5 separate regions of the Homo sapiens genome follow, and regions 2, 3, 4 and 5 are each reported to be linked to region 1. Evidence: microRNA targets listed by miRTarBase, many of them from high-throughput screens and not tested one by one. Region 1 holds a microRNA gene; each other region holds the end of a gene's coding sequence.

Evidence for each region. The annotated mature microRNA hsa-miR-3929 reads GAGGCUGAUGUGAGUAGACCACU and lies in region 1 at 1,735-1,757, shown strand. An mRNA with a match to its seed (bases 2 to 7 or 8) in the 3' UTR can be bound and repressed. Matches are read on the target gene's strand: a 7mer-m8 pairs with bases 2 to 8, a 7mer-A1 pairs with bases 2 to 7 and ends in A, and an 8mer does both.
Region 2: miRTarBase lists SLC60A1 as a target of hsa-miR-3929. Seed matches in the 3' UTR shown: 7mer-m8 at 3,305-3,311, 7mer-m8 at 2,451-2,457 and 7mer-m8 at 2,097-2,103.
Region 3: the mRNA of TMED10 is a reported target of hsa-miR-3929. Seed matches in the 3' UTR shown: 7mer-m8 at 1,282-1,288 and 7mer-m8 at 1,147-1,153.
Region 4: miRTarBase lists PER2 as a target of hsa-miR-3929. Seed matches in the 3' UTR shown: 7mer-m8 at 2,182-2,188.
Region 5: miRTarBase lists MRE11 as a target of hsa-miR-3929. Seed matches in the 3' UTR shown: 7mer-m8 at 1,098-1,104, 7mer-m8 at 452-458, 7mer-m8 at 305-311 and 7mer-A1 at 260-266.

What each region holds. Positions count from the first base shown.
Region 1 is chr18:35,931,722-35,935,844 of GRCh38, reverse strand. It overlaps MIR3929 (microRNA 3929), which reads left to right and starts at 1,703; the gene lies at 1,703-1,757.
Region 2 is chr1:205,599,679-205,603,801 of GRCh38, reverse strand. SLC60A1 (solute carrier family 60 member 1) reads right to left here. Exons shown (of 10, transcript NM_181644.5): 10 at 884-3,396. The coding sequence ends at 3,341. Among named protein-coding and RNA genes, the nearest start is that of ELK4, 30 kb to the left of the region's middle. RefSeq lists an enhancer at 2,638-3,837.
Region 3 is chr14:75,131,003-75,135,125 of GRCh38, forward strand. It overlaps TMED10 (transmembrane p24 trafficking protein 10), which reads right to left. Exons shown (of 5, transcript NM_006827.6): 5 at 467-4,004. The coding sequence ends at 3,883. Among named protein-coding and RNA genes, the nearest start is that of NEK9, 6.0 kb to the left of the region's middle.
Region 4 is chr2:238,242,762-238,246,884 of GRCh38, forward strand. It overlaps PER2 (period circadian regulator 2), which reads right to left. Exons shown (of 23, transcript NM_022817.3): 23 at 1,283-3,763. The coding sequence ends at 3,614. Among named protein-coding and RNA genes, the nearest start is that of HES6, 4.8 kb to the left of the region's middle. RefSeq lists an enhancer at 3,387-4,123.
Region 5 is chr11:94,416,303-94,420,425 of GRCh38, forward strand. MRE11 (MRE11 double strand break repair nuclease) reads right to left here. Exons shown (of 20, transcript NM_005591.4): 20 at 1-3,879. The coding sequence ends at 3,823. Among named protein-coding and RNA genes, the nearest start is that of GPR83, 17 kb to the left of the region's middle.

The DNA of each region.
Region 1 (4,123 bases):
TCACTCCATTGACAAGGCTGATGAAAAGAACCACTAGGAGAAGAGCTACTATAAAACTCTGCACATATAATTATTAGGGATGAACAATGCCAGGTTGTGCTTGATGGGCCTTCTAAGTCCTTTTGGAGCCCTCTCACTTTCTGGTAAGCCTTTAGACAAAATCTGCTTTGCGATGCCTCTAGAATGGGGCAGGTGGAAAGCTTCCTGCAATTACATTCCTTTTATATAATGTTTCTCCACCAGAGGTTTGCAGTTTTATAGGATTCACCTGCCAATTGGCAACTGATTTGAGACACGTTAGTGCATCAGCAGAAGTGGGGGACATGCCGAGGGAGCAGCCTGGTGCTTGGCGGAATGTATCCTCTAATCACTTTTCGCCAGAAAGACCCTTAAAGCAATTATACGCTTCTGCAAAGAGAACTGGAAAAGGGTTCTGGATACTTTCTCCTCTTAATTAACCAAAGAATATGCCAATTCTTTTTAGAAAGTAAACTTTTTTCCCTAGTAACTATATTGTCCCATATCTGGTTATAATTTGTGTCTGAAGTAAGTAATTAATAGAGGACTGCCAGAATTTATGAGAATAAGAAACCCCATGAGTTCACGCGTGCACACACACACACTCAGAGGACATTGATATAGTTTGGATACTTGTGCCCTACAAATCTCACGTTGGAATGGCAACCCCAATGTTGGAGGTGGGCCTAGTGGGAGGTGTTTGCATCACAGGGGTGGATCCCTCTTGAGTGGCCTGGTGCCATCCTTGCAGTAATGAGGGAGTTCTTGCTCTACCAATTCGCCCAAGATCTGGTTATTTAAAAGAGCCTGAGACTTCCTTCTCTCTCTTGCTCCCTCTCTCACTACGTGATATACTGGCTCCCCTTCACCTGCTGCCATGATTGGAAGCTTCTGAGGCCCTATGCTTCCTGTATAGGCTGCAGAAGCATGAGCCAAATAAACCCCTGTTCTTTATAAATTACCCAGTTTCAGGTATTCCTTTATTGCAAAGTAAACAGTCTAAGAAAACTGCTGTTTTCTTTACTTGTAATGTGCTTTTCACTGCCTAGCTAAAAGGAGACAATGGCCTCTGTAAAGCACCTTGTCATGGACAAGTGATGCTGGCATATCATTATAATTGTGACCTATGAAATCTTTGCCTATTCTCAGGTTTCAAATATTTTTCTCCTGACAGTTCTATATAGTATACCCTGCTTATCTGCTGGGGACATATTCCAAGACCCCCCAGTGGATACCTGAAACCATGGATACTAAAGAACTGTATATATACTGTGTTGTTTTCCTATATGTATTATTATAAAGTTTAATTTATAAATTATATTATATTATATATAATATTATATTATTATAAAGTTTAATTTATAAATTAGGCACAGGAAGAGATTACAGCAAATTATAATAAAACAGACAATTATAATGATATGCCAGCACCACTATTCTTGCACACTGGGGCCATTACGAACTAAAATAAGGGTTACTTGAACATCAGCACTGTGATGTCACGGCAGTTGATCTGATAACCCAGATGGCTACTAAATGACCCATAGGCAGGTAGCATCTACAGTGTAGATCCACGAGACAAAGGGATGATTCACATCCTAGGAGGGACGGGACAGATGGCCTGAGATTTCATCATGCTACTCAGAACAGCACACAATTTAAAACGTATGAGTTGGCCAGGTGCAGTGGCTCACACCAGTAATCCCAGCACTTTGGGAGGCTGATGTGAGTAGACCACTTGAGCCCGGGAGTTCAAGACCAGCCTGGGCAACATGGCGAACTCCTATCTTTACAAAAAATACAAAAATTAACCAGGCGTGGTGGTGCATGTCTATAGTCCCAGATACTCAGGGGGCTGAGGTTGGAGGATTGCTTGAGCCTGAGAGACCAAGGCTGCAGTGAGCCAAGACTGCGCCATTGCACTCCAGCCTGGGTGACAGAGTGAGATTCTGTCTCAAAAAAATTTTTTTAAAAAGGGATGAATTATTTATTTCTAAAATTTCTCTTTTAGTTTTTTGGATGTGAGTGGATGATGAGCCACATGTCCCTTTGGTTGGCTGAGGGTAACTGAAACCATGGAAAGCAAAACTGTGGTTAAAGGGGGACTACTATAATTTTAGCTGTATTATGTTTAGGTCTATCATCCATATTGAATTAATTTTGTGCATGAGTTGAGATAGGAATTGAGATTCATTTTCTTCCCCATATGGATATCTATTTTTCCAGCATCATTTCTAGAAAAGCGCTTACTTTTCCCATTGGAGCTTCGGTGGCTTTGTCAGTCATTAAGTAACCTTATAGGTGTGAGTCTAGGTCTAGGCTGCCTGTTGTGTTTTATTCATGTATTTGCATAAACTTGCTTTGTGTACATTAGCTTGGCTACTGGAGCCTCAAACTCAGGTTGTGGAAGTCCTCATATTCTGTCTTGTCAGTATTAATTTAGAGATCCTAGGACCTTAGTATTTCCATATAAATGTCAGAATCAATATGTCAGTTTCTCTGAAAACTTGACCTAATTATCAGTCAGATTGCATTGAATCTATAGATCAATCTGAGGAGACTGTATATTATAAAAGCATTGGGTTTTTCAACTTATGAACATGAAATGCCTCTCCATGTATTTAGGTCTTCTAAATTCATAGTTTTCTGCATAGAGTTATTAAATACCTTTTGTTAACCTTATTTCTAAGTATTTAATGTTCTAGATATCATTATAAATAAAATTGGTTTTTAAACTTTTTTTTTGCTGGTAGTAAATCGAAATATAATTGATTTTTTCAGATTGATCTTGTATTCTGTGACCTTGCTATTTTTACATAAATTCCTCAGGATTCTCTTTGCAAACAATGATGTCATTTATACACAAAGGGAGTTTTACTTCTTAATTTTCAATCTTTATGCCTATTATTTCATTTTGTTTTATTTTACTGCCTAGGACCTCCAGTACAATGTTGAACAGAAGTGGTGACAGTAAACATTTTTAGCTTGTTCTTGATAATAAAAGAGGACAATATTTCACCATTATCATAAATGGCAGTTGAACTTAGGGAAATAATGTTTCTGCTTATGAAATGATTACATATTTGTCTTCTCTTTCGTTTTGTTAATATGGTGGATTACATTGACAATTTAATATGTTAAATCAACATTGCACTCTTGTGATACACCTACTTCTTCATGGAATATGAACTTTTGCATGTATTTTTGTATTTGATTTGCTAGTAGTTTGTTTAGGTTCATGAGGGATATTCTGTAGTTTTCTTTTATTGTAATATATTTGCTAGTTTTTTGGTATCAAATTTATATAGGCCTCATAAAAGTGATTCAGACAGTGTTCTCTTCTCTTGTGTTTTAGAAAGAGTTTGTCTATATTTGATGTCATTTCTTTCTCAAATGTTTGACAGAATCAACAAAGAAACTATCTGAGTCTAGAATTTTCTTTGTGTGAAGATTTTTGATAATACGTTCAATTTCTTTACTAAGTATAAGGCTAGTAACATTTTTTCATTGTGTGTTATTTTTATTTTTCAAAGGATTATTCCATTTTATCCAAATTGACAAATTTATTGGCATAAAGTATTCATATATTGCCTTATTATGTTTTAAATGTCTATTGGCTCTATACTGGTGTCCCTGATTTCATTCTTGATATTGCTAATTTGTGTCTTCTTTTTTCCTTTCTTCGTCCAGGTAGAGGTATATAGTTTTTATTCGTATTTTTAAAGAACCATATTTTGGCTCTGTTATTTGTCTGTTGTTTGTCTGCTTTCTCTTTCATTAGTTTTGGCTTTATTTTCTCATGCCTTAGCATTTCTTATAATGTAGATCTGCCAGCAATGAACTCAGGTAGTTTTTATTTGCCTGAAAATATTTTTCTTACTTTCATTCTTGGAGAATATTTTGTTTGGATATCAAATTCTAGGTTGACAGTGTTCCCCCTACCCCCGCACTTTAACTGTGTGGTTCCATTATTTTCTGGCCTATGTTTATCTGATGAAAAGTTGGCCATCATTTATATTCTTATTCCCTTCTACGCAATTTATCTTTTTTTGAGATAGGGTCTCCCTCTGTCACCCATGCTAGAGTGCAGTGATGTGATCTCAGC
Region 2 (4,123 bases), not on the chromosome of region 1:
GTCTTGAACTCCTGATCTCAGGTGATCCGCCTGCCTCAGCCTCCCAAAGTGTTGGGATTACAGGTGTGAGCCACTGTGCCTGGCCCTAGAGCATCTCTTGACATTCCCTATTCCCATTCCATACTCCCTGTATGTTTCTTTATGGTGCTACATTACCCCTCACCCTGTGGCATTCCCATATCCTATTCCATATTCCCTGTATGTATGTTTCTCTATGGTGCTACATTACCCCTCACCCTGTGGCATGTTACGTGTAGTATTTGTTTGCTGTCTGTATGTCTTCACCTGCGGTATAATCCTTGTGAGGCAGGGACTTCTGTCTCAGTCACCACTGTATGTCTGTACCTAGATTAGTGCCTTGAACATAGCAGGTGCTTAACAAATCCTTTTTGACTGAATAAACGAAATTCACTCTAAAAGAACTCTATGTCACTGTGTCTTCTTTTAGTGAATCCGATGTGCCTGATGGGTTAGATTTCCATATACAAGTAGCAGAGGAAAATCTGGGAACAGGGTGATTCCACAGGATTCTGAAATGTCCAAATTCCTGAAAGGAAGATGAGGAAGAAAGTCCTACTTGTGTAACTGAGAAGCGTGTGGTGTAAGAATCGACCTGCCTTTTCCTTATTCCTTATTCTGATTTTATGTAATAGGGAATAGTGGCACTTAGCCCTGCTATGAGAGGTTATTTATTTATTTATTTATTTATCTTTTTTTAAAAAAATTCAGAGTTTCCCTTGTGAGACAGTTTTCTTTCTTCTAAAATATAAGCCACATTAACTTATTAGTATGAGAGAGACCTGCCTCTGGGGAACATCAGACCATTTGTTTCTGAGTGTATGCAAGAGGATCAATTGTTCTTCATAATGGATAACACACTTAATAAGTTTAAATATTTTATTTTAGGAAAGGTACTCTTAGATTTGTGTTAATGTTGTTTTCTGTATTAACAAATTAGTCACAATCAACTTCGATATAGCCATTGATTCTTCTTTCTAAATCTGTATAAAAAGGATATTTTCTTGAAAAACCACAAGAAAAATACAACTGCTTTTTCATTGCCCAGGTCAGTTACTCGCTACAGTCAGACTGCATTTAAATTAGACTGGCATCTAATACTTTTGAGTATTTACAAATATAATTAAAACTATACTCCTAGACCACCAGCTTTCAAAAAAGTTGGATCTGCTTGACTTGCAATAAATATGTACCAAACATGAATAATTTCTAAGCCGCTTATGAGGAGGTTTTAAAAATTACTAACATTTATTAAGCAGTTTGTGTGTCAGGCATATTGTGAGTGCTTTGCTTTATACAAATTCACTTACTTTTTTCAGAATTCCTTTGAGGTAGGGTAGGTACTTTTAGAAATGCCATTTTACATGTGAAAAGTGAGGTTGGAAGAGCCTCAGTAACCTGCCCAGGGCCACACAGCTAGAAGGTGAGCCAGCACTTGAGCCACGTTTCTCTTTCCAGCCAGATTCTCAGCACTCAGCTGTGCTGCTGGTGGTCACAGCTGGCTGACTGGACCAGGAAGAACCTTTTAGTGTCAGGCGTGTGAATCACAGCACTTGGGACAGGTTACCAAGAACCATGATCACTTAATTTTTATATTTATACATGTACATTTGTATATACATAGAGAAAGTGCAGGCAAAACCATTATACAGTTACTCTAATAGCCATTTGCTACTGCCAGCAGTCTCAGGACTGATCCCTGTCTAAGCTGGCAAGTTTACATTCTCCTTGTATCACTACAGGATTTGCTCTGGACAGGAGCTGTAACTCCTCAACAAATCCTGCTTTCAGTCTACTACTGCACAGCTTGAATTGTTCAGTAGGCCCAGCTTTTTGTGAAAGAAAAGGCCTTGCCATGGTATAAAGAGTTTTTTTCCCTCTATAAAAGATGTAAAATTTTTGGCTGGGTGCAGTGGCTCACGCCTGTAATCCCAGCACTTTGGGAGGCCGAGACGGGCAGATCATGAGGTCAGGAGATCAAGACCATCCTGGCTAACACGGTGAAATCCCGTCTCTACTAAAAATACAAAAAATTAGCTGTGCGTGATGGCATGCGCCTGTAGTCACAGCTACTTGGGAGGCTGAGGCAGGAGAATCGCTTGAAACTGGGAGGCGGAGGTTGCAGTGAGCCGAGATGACGCCACTGCATTCCAGCCTGGCAACAGAGTGAGACTCTGTCTCAAAAACAAAAACAAAAACAAAAAAAGATGTAAAATTTTCATTAGGTATTTTCAGAAAGTCTTAGTGCTGTTTCTATACCTTTTATATGCTAGTCAATGTCAGTAGAAAAAAATGGAACATCCATTTCATTCTCCTGGGCGATTTCTGGACCAGTTAGCCTTGATTACTAGCAGTGGTATGCTGGTAAATGTTTAACCACTGGCTCTCCGGGATCTGTAGCTTTTGCCAGTGTCCATGGTAATACTCCCACCAGGCTGATTTCAAGCTACCAACATGCTATCACGAAGAGTGGAGTTGAGACAAGGTGCACAGTAGCACACCATCATATATAGTAATTCCACCACACAGGTACCATGGACGTAAATTACCTCAAGAGCATCAAGATCAAATTAGGAAGTGATATGCTTTGAATATTTATTACCTTTGTTTTAAATGTAATTGATTTAATTATAAGTTTGTATGATTTGATTTTTAATAATGGCTGCATTTAATAACCAGCTGTCAAAATGAAAATTTTACAATCAGCTTTTCTAAGTTGGTATGAGCCAGCTTAGCATACCACTACATTAGTATACCAAAGAGAGCAAGATTCAACTTTTCCTTTTGGTGTTTGAGAATATAGATAAGCTATTGATGTCTGCAGCAGGAATTTAAGAGACTTTGGACTATTAAGTGAAAAGCACGAAAATCCTTTGAGCATGCCAGGGAATAACTTGCAGCTTGTTTTGCTTAAATTGAAATATATCTACATATAGCAATGATCATGGAGCTTTACAATTTCAACCTATTTTTACAAACTTCAATGAAGAATGATCTCAAACCCAGAGTATGGTCCATGCATGAGGTGACAAATGGAGTGAAGCGCGCGGCTGTCTCCTTCCTTCCCATCTGGGTATCTGGACAGCTCTTACCAACAGTCTGAACCAGGGAAGAAGATAACTTGAGAAGCCAGGTAAACTTCTAATGATTTTGACCAGGTACCAGGACTCAATTTAATTTCCTCTACCCAACCAAGTTTTAGTGGAGAAGACTTGAATAGCCATTGAGAGAGCGCCTCCACCACCACCCAGCTTTCTGAAACAGTATGGTCGTGCTGGTGATCAAGAGGCTGAAAGTCTTCTCTTGCCTTCTTCACCCAGTTTTACCTCTGGTAGCACTCAGAGTTTTCCATTCCAATTGATCTGTCTTGGGTAGGAACTACAAAAGAAAAACAAAACAGGTAGCATGTTTCAGCAGCTCTGATGAGTTGCAGTGATGATTCATTCTGAGAGCTTACCCAGGCTGTTTGTTTCTCTGCCATTCTGTGGCTCTAGAGGGAGCAAAGTGAAAAGTCAGACCCCCTAGTTCTGGCGAACAGTTGGTGGAGGCAGTTTCCTGAGACTGCTGTCTAGGGCTTGGGGAATGTGTCTGTCTCCCATGAATAAGGAGCCCATTAAGTGTTATTCATTTAATGTTCAGCAAATATTAATTGAATGTAGGTCTTAAATGAAACTCCTGTGTGTGTGCAACCAGTACTGCTGTCTCAGAAGTGAGGCTATAGTTAGTGCTGTTTTGGGGGCCACCTTTCCTTCTGGGCCTTTGTACTGAGCGTTTAGAGCGTAGATATGTTCACCCACTGAGAGCGGATGGTGAATGCCTGTTCCTTTAGTCTTTTTGTGATGATTTTGCTTTTTATAGGGAGGACAGAGTCTCCGCCTGGGCACCTTCTCTTAAGAACTGGCTTTGCACACAGCCGATGCAGTCCCTGGGCACTTTGAAAGCAGTGGGCAAAAGGGCAGGTAAGGGCTCAGGGTTATGAAAATTGCTTTGGGACTCCCCCTGCCTGGGGTCTCTAGAAGGGAGACTATTCTTAGGAGGTGTCTGTGCCCTGAAGGAGACTTTCTTTGCTACTTGGCCTGAAGGACTTCTTTTTGAAAAAAAGATT
Region 3 (4,123 bases), not on the chromosome of region 1:
ATAGGCCTAAAAAGTGAGTCCTGAGGATTCATATACCGGGGGTGGGGGGTGGGGGTCTTTTAGGAATGAAAGGCAGGGGAGATGGCTCTCTGTAGGAGTGATTCTATGCAATTGCAATTTTAATTGCAAAAACCACAATTACTTTTGTGCGAACCTAATAGTAACAGTTTCCAAAAGAGAGAAGATAAAGAGAATAAAATGCCTAGCTTACAGAACCATATTTGGTCTGAGGATGCATAATTAAGGATTCTTAATTATATATATATATATAATTTACATATATTACATACAAAATATGATAATCTTTTACTAGCTCATATAAACTATCGATCTGCAGTAACTGAAGAATAACAATATTTTTTCTCTAATTCATCAGGTATAATTTGCCATAATTTAAAAGAGAAATATGGAAGAATTATCACCAATCCAGACATAGAAGTACTCAAGAGTAACAGTACACCTAAAATGGTTTCTGCTAGCCTTTATTTGAGAAAATTTACACAAAAATCCCCAATCCAACATTTACAAGTGAATCTGTATAAATCCCATATGCCTCTTTCCCAAACAAACCAAGAAATGGCTTTATGACAGGGGTCCATGACAATGGTATAACAAGGCTTACTTAAACTGCATCATTCTCATTTATATTATACAGACCATTTTGGATAATATGCTCAAAAATGGAGGAAAGCACATAACACCCGATTTTAAAGCTTATTTGCTCTTGTGTCAGTCTTTTGTCAAAGGCAAATACATTTACTTTTTAGATAAAACCAAAGTATAATATCAATTAACTTTTAAACCAAAAGCACAAAATGTCCCAGTTGATAGTTTCGGCATGAGTAAAGGGAAGGGACATGAAAGAATGTCAACTCCTACAAAGCTTAAGTTTAGGGTCACACTTGGGAACAAAAGCATCAACGAAATAAAATATTCTCTTCTCCTATCTTCTTGACATTTTGTCACATCACAAGAACATAACTAAGAGAGTAGCTTTCGTTGCTCCTAAAAAGGGGAAAGGCACCAGTCAGAAATAGGAAAGAAAATCTTGTTAGGCTAACGGTACATGATAGAAATTTCACATTTAAAAGTTTAAAGATGGAGGCTGGGTGTGGTGGCTCACGCGTGTAATCCCAGCACTTTGGGAGGCTGAGGCAGGCAGATCACTTGAGGTCAGGAGTTCGAGACCAACCTGGCCAATATGGTGAAACTCTGCTTCTACTGAAAATACAAAAATTAGCCAGGCATGGTGGTGTGCACCTATATTCCCAGCTACTCAGGAGGCTGAGGCAGGAGAATTGCTTGAACCCAGGAGGTGAAGGTTGCAGCGAGCTGAGATAGTGCCATTGCACTCCAGCCTGGGCGTTGCAGCAAGACTCCGTCCCCCCCCCCCCAAAAAAAAAAAAGTTTAAGGATGTATCTTAACCCACATATTATTTTCTCTACTTGGATGCATCCTCTGTAACTTAGTATATGTAATACTACAGATAGACTTTCTCAACATTTGCTGCCTATGCTAAGGATCTGCAGCCAGGTTCTCAGAAGCAGTACCTACCAATTCTCAACAGCAGATGGCAATGTTGTACAAGTTAACGACAGAACTACTTTTATGCCACAGGAGAGGAAGACACAAGGAGTCAAAAGGGGGAAAAAAAAAGTTTGGGTTCATAGTAGCAGGAACATTAACAGAATAGCCTGAGATTTTAACAGCATAACTCATTCCCTCTTCCACCTTTGTACTTTATCCAGGTCAACACATCAGGGTTCTCTAACGATTCCAGTATTCTGTTTCTTTACTGTAAGATACATGTAATTCTTGCCACTGTGATTAAACAAGCCCTGTAATAGTCAGCAGGGTTAAAAAGAGATTACGGAAAGGATAAACTCCTACCTACTTTCTTGGGAGATGTGGGAAAGATTTCAAGTCACAGCATTTTTCATAACTGTTTATAAACAATGGTCATTTATATCCACACTTTCTCTTATTTACATTAGTTTTGGCCCTTAGGCAACTCATACTCCTACAGTGATTATTGGCTTTGCTTTCATAACATGTATTTTTAAGTATTTACTCTCTTAATGGCCCTCGATGTCTATTTTATACATCATATCTCTTAATTCTCTAGATGGAACACTGAAGGACAGGAATTAAGTAAGTGACTGGCCATGCAAGGGTTGGAAATTTTACTTATTTTTCCTTGGTAGAAGTTATGTTAAAAATTCAAGCAACCACATATCTAACAGAGGAATTTTATCTAGGATATATAAAAAACCTCTCAAAACTCAATAGTAAAAAGAACAAATGACCTAAATAGAAAATAGACAAAAGACATGAAGACATTTCACCGAAGAGGATACATAGATGGCAAATTAGCACACAAAAAGATACTCAACATCATTAGCCATTGGAAATGCAAATTAAAACCACATGTGGTATCATTACACACATCTATGTGAATGGTTAAGATAAAAAATAGTAGTAATACCAAATGCTGGTGAGGATGTGAAGAAACTGGATCAATCATACATTGCTGTCTGAATTGTATGAGTGGCTGTATGTAAAAAGTAGAGCCACTCTGGAAAAAGAGTAGGGTAGTTTCTTACAAAAATATATGTGTTTACCATACAACCCAACAGTTGCCCTTTTGAGCATTTATCCCAGAAAATGAAAATGTATGTTCACATAAAAACCTGTACATGAATGTTCACAGCAGCTTTATTAGGGCAAAAAACTGAAAACAACTCTTATGTCCTTTAGTGGGTGAATGGTTAAGCAAACTGTGGTACATCCATACCATGGAATACTACTCAGCAATCAAAAGGAACTGCCCCCACTTCACCACGATGCAATATATGCATGTAAGAAATCTGTACTTATACCCCCTAAATATATAAAACATTTTTAAAAGAAAAAAAGGAAGAAACTATTCATACATGCAACAACTTGGATGGATTTCAAGGGAATTATGCTGAATGAAAAAAGATCAGCCTCGTAAGATTACATTCTGTATGATTCCATTCATACAACATTCTTGAAATGACAAAATTACAGAGATGGAGGACAGAACAGTGGTAGCCACAGGTTGGGGTGAGGGTATAAGAAAGGGATGTGGCTGCGGCTGTAAAAGGGCAGTGCAAGGGATCCATGTGACAGAACTGTTCTGTCTCTTGTGATGGTGGTCACATGAATCTACACATGTGATAATATTGCATAGAATTAAATACACATACACGAAAAAAGTTCAAGCAGTTGAGCACAAATATTTTAATTGTCTAAAATGACATTTTCTTTAAGAGTTATCTACAGTTCAAAGCTCACTTTTATGAGGTGTCACATCCATCACCATTTTAAGAGATATAAAATCATGAAAAGATATCACCAGAAGCTATGTAAACATTTCAGCTAAGGGTAAAGAGAAAGTTAAGGGTGTTTTCACAAGGAAATTGAAAGAGGGCAATCCAAATGAAGTCAACATGGTCACACAAAAATCTTGGTAAAAGAACTAGAATGGAAGCCCAAGCTGCTGAGCAAGTGGGAGAAGAAAAGAAAACATAGTCCAAACAGATCACACAAGGGAACCCAGGACAAATGCTGACTTTGGCATTATCTAGGTAACCCCTATTTTTTGTCATAGGTGACTCTAATAATAGACCTATTGTTGCAAAACCAGTCAAAATCCTACCAAATTAAAAAGAAGTCCCTCATTGACTTGTTGGGTGTAGGTGGTACCCCATGTCCTCCCACACCAAAAGAGATCAGTTCTGGCAAGAAAGCTCCAACGTGCCTTGATGGTGCTGTTGGTAGGATGCCTTAGGCCAGGCACGTCCCAGCGATGTTCTGCTGGCTGAGGTACAAGGTGGGAGGAGAATATGCCTCATTCATTACTCAATCAATTTCTTGGCCTTGAAGAAGCGTCGCAGGTAGAAGACCTGCCAGGTAGCTAGTCCAATGAGACAGAACATTGAAAAGATGCTGAAGTATAGGACCCGAGTGTTTGTTGACTCTAAAAAAAAACAAAAGCATTGTAAACATAATGAAGTGAGCCTCCTCAGCTGGCTAAACAATGGCAGGGGAGGTGGGTAAAGGCAATTAATTAACTTCACTCTGTCCCTAGGTCTAACA
Region 4 (4,123 bases), not on the chromosome of region 1:
TTCAATTCCCTTTAGCGGTGCACTGGCCAGCTGGCATGGCCTTTTTGTCCCAGAAGCCTGGCCTATCTTGAGGTCACCAAGCCCTCCCTCCCTCCTTCACAGCAGCCTCCCCTAGCCAACACTTCCTGCCATTTGTCCCTTGGGCCAGTCCTGCCTTCAAAGTTTGCCTGAGTATGGACTTCCTGAGCATTTGAGTCCTTTGATCCCCCTAGAGCCAGGAACAGAGGCCAGCAGAGGCTGGGCAGGGTGGTGGTTGCTGCGGGGATACCAGTTAGCAGTGGGGGTGGCAGGCCATAAATCCCTGGGGGAACAAAGGCAGCTGCGGCCTGTAGACTGTCCAGGCCCCTTGTGGGCAATCTGCCCAGGAGACTCAGAGAATCTCCGTTTGGTTTGGAAATAAATCCCTTGGGGTTATATGGTAAATAAAAATACAATTAAGAGTCTTCCAAAAGCACTCAGGTTCAGTGAAACAACCATATCTGGCCATTTAGAGCAGTTTGCAGAGGCCTCTGTGCTCGCTAGGGAGGACTTTGCCTTTTATCCCATCAGCACTTGGCGTTAGGCAGCCAGGCTAGCAGGCAGAGGAGAGCCCCTCCCTTCTGCTCAGGGAGCTTCTCAGAGGCTGGGCATTGGGTTCAGGATCCATTCAGCTCTCTGCTCCCACCCCCAGGGTCATGGTTTGAAGAGTGGGAGGGATGGGGAGCAACTCTTCGGGCTTCCACAGTTTTGGCCTCACAAGGCTTCATTCATCACTGTGAAAGAAGGGCTGGGGTCAGGGGACTATGCCGCCCTGCCCATATCATTCGCAATGGAGACATGTGACCTTCCTGGTGGAGCCTCCTGACCGCCCCACCTTTAGCCCTACCTAGCCCGATGACCAGAAGACAGGCAGCCAGCCTGGAAAGGCCAGGTAACCCAGGGCAGGGATGCAGGGAAGACAGAGGTGCGTGGAGGCAGAGCTGGGGGCACTCTGGGGCTGAGCCAGACAGCTGCACCCCTCCAACTAAAAGTGAAAAGACTGTGGGGCATGACACGATTAGGTTTGCATTACGTGAGTTCACTCCTGCAGCCTGAAGGAGGGTGTGTGTGTGACACGCACAGGAAGAAAGGGAGCCAGCAAGAAGCAAACGCTATAAGGGAGCTGACCGCCAGGAGGCCTTTGGGATGTAAGATTCTTTAATGCAGAATTCCTGGAGTTCTTTAAAAAAATTTTTTTTAAATAATCTTTGCTCTCTATTCAGGTTTTCCTTTGTGCTATGTGAAAAATACATACAAGTAAAAATAAAAATATACTTGCTTTATTTACCAATTTTCTAAAAGGCAAACAGGTCATAAAAAGACACAAGCAGTCAAACAAATCTATTGCACTGGGTAAAGAAAGTTTGGTTTGCACACAAACAAACCACTTGTCCAGCAAGGCTCAACAAATCATCACAGAAACTCTGAGAGCTTATTTACATATCTCTTCGGGAATATATTAAAAAGAAGGCTCAGTTTAAAATAGAGAAAAACTGTTTAACACCTGTGTAAGCACACACACTAAAGAAAACATGACTTGATGCTTGGCATCACGTAAACAAATTCACAAGATGATCCTATTAAGTCAACTGCTTGGCACGCGCTGAAGCTACAGTTAACAATCAGTGAGCACATATTAAATGATAAAATAATGCTGATGGTAAACATTCATAACAGCAGAGTAAGATTTTGGCAGTTTTGTGTTTCGGTAACATAACTGTAACCTTAGATGAACACCTATCCCTTCATGATCTGACTTTAGAGGCAAGGAGTTTGTAACATCTAATGGCCATAAGAATGCAGACTGCTACCTTATCATAGGCATAGGCAGCTGATGTTACTTTGTAAATTAACGAAAAATTAAAGTGTTCTTGTGTTTATGAAGAATAGGTTTAATAGTCAGGCATAAGATGGTTTTACGATGAAAACCTAGTGGATTACAAAGAGATTTCACCTCCATCAAAAAACAGAAAACCCTGGTCCCAGTTGGGCGTGGTGGCTCACGCCTGTAATCCCAGCACTTTGGGAGGCCGAGGTGGGTGGATCGCTTGAGGTCAGGAGTTCGAGACCAGCCTGGCCAACATGGTGAAACCCTGTCTCTACTAAAAATACAAAAAATTAGCTGGGTGTGGTGGCAGTCGCCTGTGGTCCCAGCTACTCAGGAGGCTGAGGCAGGAGAATCGCTTGAACCTGGGAGGCAGAGGTTGCAGTGAGCCAAGATGGCGCCACTGCACTCCAGCCTGGGCAAAAAGAAACTCCATCTAAAAAAAAAAAAAAAAAAAAAAAAAAAAGAAAACCCTGGTCCCTTTTAAGCCTCATAGTCTTGGTCCAATTTTAAGTCAACTGTTCTTCAGTGATAACTTTGAATTTCCACCAGGGACCAATATTAAATTTTCTGAACCATCTTTGGAATATACAATGCAACATGAGGTTTTGTAAAAAGCCGGGCAGACTGGCCTCACTTTTCCCCAAGTGTCCAAATGACCTAAAAGTGCTGGGGACACTGGCAGAGGCCTGAAGCTGCTCCGAGAGAGGTCGGGCTCATGAAAAGAATGAGGGCTGTGCACCCAACCCAGGGTGCAGTGGGAGAGGTGAGCTCACTGCACCCCTGAAAATACAGATGCAGTCGCAAGCTGTCAGACTGAGTGGCAGTGGCTGCTCTCGGCCAGGAGATGTGATGTGGGCTTGGCTGGGTGGAAGCAGATGTCTGGGTGGTTCCAACGGAAGAAAACCAAACAGGACTGGGTCTCACATGTGTTGGTCACAGCCTGGTTTGCAAAGGGAAGTCACCATAAAGAGATGACTGATGACATATTTTAATCTCCATATTGGCCATCATGGTCTGAAAAGGAGACAAGAATAATGCAGAAATATACAGAGGGTCTGTCTGCGTGTGCATTCATCCGATGGAGTTGGCCACACAAACCACTAGGCTTCTTTAGTCCAGAGCAAATGTTTCAACTTTGTTCACTACAAACAAAACCTATGTCAGACTGAAATATTGACCACACCAGAAGCCAAAGCTGTTGGTTTGCCAAACAACGCTTCACACCATTTAATGTGAAACGTTTTGAAATAAAACTAGGAGAGGCTGCTATCTCCATTTGGTATGTATAAAAAAACACTCTACCTTGACTAAATGATAATTCAGATAAAAAGCAGTCCCCAAGAGAGGACAAAATTTGATCTGATCCAAACACCCTGGGAAAGCTCTGGAAGCCAGAGTCCCCAGCTGGTGCAGCAGACAGAGGTCTCGTCACAGTCACAGGACTTCTGGGAGCACTGAGGCAACTTCCCTGACACTAAGAGGCGCTTAGTCTTTCTCAAGTTAAATAACAACTAAAATCTCTTCCCCATCCCACAAAACTCCACATATATATTTTATATATAAAAACATATTTCTTTCCGAACTCTCCCCACTCTCCACAGTTTTAAGTCGCCCCTTCAGAAAACTATGTTGTTTTTTTTTCTAAAACAAAAAAAGCAACATGAGCATATGTGTCCATTTCAGTGGAAACAGCCATGAAGATCTTTCATCTCTTCCAAGCACCACCTGGTGTACCTCGCTGGCTGCCGGGCTGAGGTGGGGCAGGGGTTACGTCTGCTCTTCGATCCTGTGATTCAAGGGGGATCCATTTTCGTCTTCTTTGGTGTCCGACACTTCGCTGAGTCCCAGAGAAGGAATATCTTCCTCATATGGTATGCAAATATTACCTTTTTCCTTGTTTTCACAGTAAACACATTCCTTAAAAGAAAAAAAAAGAGAAATCAGTAACAAACTTGAGATCTGAGTTGTTACAAAAGTCATTCAAATTGGCCGGGCGCGGTGGCTCACGCCTGTAATCCCAGCACTTTGGGAGGCCGAGGCGGGCAGATCACGACGTCAGGAGATCGAGACCTTCCTGGCTAACACGGTGAAATCCCATCTCTACTAATAATACAAAAAATTAGCTGGGCGTGGTGGCAGGCACCTGTAGTCCCAGCTACTTGGGAGGCTGAGGCAGAAGAATCGCTTGAACCCTGGAGGCAGAGCTTGCAGTGAGCGGAGATCACGCTACTGTGCTCCAGCCTGGGCGACAGAGTGAGACTCTGTCTCAAAAGATAA
Region 5 (4,123 bases), not on the chromosome of region 1:
TTGACACAGCAAAGACATACAAATGTACATGGCAACAGCAAGTTATATAAGCTGGTTCTTTAGATCAAACTAAAATTCTAGTATTTTCTGACCAAACTAAGTTCAAAAGTACTAAAAGAAAATGAAACAGGCAAATGATGAAATGTGGATCTTTTTCATTCAAGAATATGGAAACTCATTGGACTGAAAAACCCAAATCTTCATTATACCAAACTTCTATAATGATCTTAATGGTAGTTAGCTTTAAAAAAACACAAAATAGGCTGGGCGTGGTGGCTCAGGCCTGTAATCCCAGCACTTTGGGAGGCTGAGGTGGGTGGATCACAAGGTCAGGAGATCGAGACCATCCTGGCTAACACAGAAAAACCCTGTCTCTACTAAAAATACAAAAAAAAAAAAAAAAAAATTAGCCAGGCGTGGTGGTGGGCGCCTGTAGTCCCAGCTACTTGGGAGGCTGAGGCAGGAGAATGGCGTGGAGCTTGCAGTGAGCCGAAATGGTGCCCCTGCCCTCCAGCCTGGGCAAGAGTGCGAGACTCCGTCTCAAAAAAAAAAAACAAAAAAAACCCAAAATACTATGAATTAAATTTATGACAGATACAAAAAGGACATCAGATTTCTTTGGGGGAAAGTCGCTTTTAAATTCTATATTTCCAAAAAAGATATTTTACATTTAGATACTTTTTTTTTTTTTGAGATTGAGTTTCACTCTTGTTGCCCAGGCTGCAGTGCAATGGCACAATCTCGGCTCACTGCAACCTCTGCCTCCTGGGTTCAAGCGATTCTCCTGCCTCAGCCTCCTGAGTAGCTAAGATTACAGGCACACACCACCATGCCCAGCTAATCTTTTGTATTTTTAGTAGAGACGAGGTTTCACCATGTTGGCCAGGCTGGTCTCAAACTCCTGACCTCAGGTGAACCCCCTCCTCGGCCTCCCAAAGTGCTGGGATTAAAGGCATGAGCCACTGCACCCAGCCCATTGAGATACTTTTTTACTCAGTTTTTTTCTAAGAATGGATTTTCCTCTTTATGAAAACAAAATATTCCTTTTCTTTATAAAACTTTATAGGCAAATTTATCAAGCTGGTAAATTCCATAACAGGCTGAACCAAATGAAATACCTAAGTAAAGCAAATTACATGATTAGAAGGCTAATTATGGTATTACTGCATAGGTTTAGTATTAATGCATATGTTCTAAGTTTATTGCAACTACACTAACTTCGTAATTTTAGATTTGCAGTTGCATCCTCCTAACTGCGTCTAATGGCAGAAGCACCACCTTGTGGCAAAAGTAGGAGCTTTTAAATTACAGAAGTTAGGGCTTGTTACCCAGAAAGGAGAAAACAATATAATGGGCATCCAGGACACTGCGCTATTTCTTGACCTGTAGAGGGATTCCATCAGTGCTCAATTTATAATTATTTATTCAACCATATGACTTTTCTGTATTTATTGTATTTCCTACTTTTAAAAGTTTGGGAAAAAAGTCTTTTACATACCTGAATTAAAGGTCACATTCCTAAATGCTTGAATTTTCTAAGCACCACTTATATTTTCAAGAATTTCCTAGAACTTCGAGGAATCTTTAACCTTGTAAATGCACTGTTGTATTTTTATGATAGGAAATAAAACACCAGAAAGACACTTATTCTTTGGTAAGTAACAGAAGAATTCCCTACAGATGTCTTCCTCTGAATGTTTTCATTCCTGCTCTCCCAAAGCCTCCAAGAGCAAATGCAGCTGCTTTCAAATCATCTGAAAGACTTCTACATTCCTATACCAACAGGTCTGAAAATTGTTAGAAACAAAAAACAAAACTCCCCTAAAACCAACAGATTTTGCAGGATCAATATAAAATATTAAGGATATATAGCACATTTAACTATGTAACAATATTCAATCAAAAAAAGGTTTCCCTGTCACGTTTTATTTACCATATTTTCAGGGCTTGATACATAGTATTCACAAAATGACCTGAATTAGCTGGAGAGATTTATCACCCTCTGTAACTGCTATGTCATCACTTTCCTTAGCGGTGAACTGAATCGCATTTAGTACCTCTTTTCACAGCCAAGAGCAATTTTTTTTTTTTTAAGGAAAAAAACTTTATTCCTTTTTTCCTAGGAACTTGTCAGGATACTTTAGTGACCATTCCCTCACTATAACTCTCACCCAGACCCACCTAACTGATGCATGAGAAGAGCCACTAGCTGATGTGGCCCACAGCTCAGACTGAGCCAGCATGGCTTGTGCAGGGGTAGGTAGCACAGCATCATCCAGACACTGCCTCCCCTGGTAGCTTCCATTACATCATGGACAGCACTGCTCTTCCCTGACTTAACCTTCTGCTTTGTTCAAATACTAGAAATATTAGATTTCAAGTTCAATAAAGATGTGGGCAGATCTGCCTAAGAATATTTCACAGGACAATGCCTTCCACTGAGTTAATGTTACTTGCTCAAATAACCCTTATGCTCAAGTTAGGTACAGAAAAAATATTTTTAAGAAAGTCAATAGAATGTTATATTGCAAGTTTTGACTTAGGCCTCTTCAAAAGTGCTATATGAGGCAGCCACTAACCAAGTGTCTGTCTCTTATAATTTGACACATTCCAGGTATGACTATTCTAATGGTCATGAGTATCACTGAGTCAAGTATTTGTTTCTACCTATGAAGAAATGTCGGGCCATTGTACTCCCAAGATGTATAACTTGAATTTTAAAGTAAAGCTGTCGCATAAAACTAGAAGAAGGAATAATCTCAGGGATCTTTTTACAGAGGATTATAAAGAATGGGATTATTTAACTTAAATCTGAAGATGTCTAATTCTTATTTCTCCCCGAAAACAAGTAAAAAATAGAAGCTTAACATGGGCTACTAAGATTTCTGGAATTGCCCATTCAGAAATGTATCACAGGAACCAAAGTTGAGATAAAATATTGTTAATGAGAAATCCTGGCATTGACATTCCACATTAAATATATTTCTATACTTTACTGTAAGGTTCAACTGACCACTCTACCTAAAACAAATTCTTCAATATTTTCAAGATGTAGTTTAAAACAATTTTTAACCCGTTTCCTCCTAGAACTAGGCACGCATATATGTATGAAAGAGAAGAAAAAGCAAAGGAGAAAGGAAGAGTGGGGAACGGGGGGGAGAGGGAGAGAGAGAGAGAGAGAGAGAGAGAGAGAACACCATTAAGGATACAGAATAATAAAGGAAATTACTACCACTTAATGGGAACACAATCTTTTGAAATCTTTGCTACAACTGGAATAAAAAACTCAGTAATTCTGAAAGGTTATTCTACTCTTTTAAATAAAAACATATCTGTTCAAACTATTAGGTACTTCTAATCATTTAGTCTTATAAGAAGCATTGGAAAAAAACATACATAGTAACAAACAGTGAATTTAGACATAGGTTCGCATAAATTGTTTTACTTTCAGAAAACCCAGAACCTCTAGGAAATTACTAAAATTATGAAGAAGTTAAATTTTATAAGCTCTTTCCCTCAACTTTGGCTAAATGTAACCATATTAAAATACTGACATAGTTTTTCATTATGAAATAGAAATGTAAAATGGTAGCTTTATTTTAATCTTTACTCAAGAGTGATATTGAAACAAAGCTCTTACTACAACAACCAGGTTAAAAAAACAAGGTGAATCAATGCTATTGTATGTCTGTGAACTAGAAATTTCTTACTTATGGAGTTATGCTCAGGAAACAATACTTAAAATCTTAAACTGTAAACTCTTAGCTTGTAACATTTTCATTTTTCCTGTATCTTGCATGTTTCTCAGTGCCATTAAATATATTATCTTCTATTTCTTCTTAAAGAACTAGTGTTCATAAAAGGATCATCATCATCATCCTGAAATGAGATACAAATGTTGTATTAGTGATTGTTCCCTGCTTCACTGAAACAAGACAGAAGTTCTTATGGGCAAAACAATACCAGTGAGAGTCATTTCACATGGGATAGACTTTATTTTTCTATTTCCTTTATAACTGCAAAATATATTAAGTACAATTAAATTCTTAATGAGCATTAAAATGAAAATTTATCCTGCTGTGTGTGCATGTATCTACAATATAAACCACACACATTTCCCTTA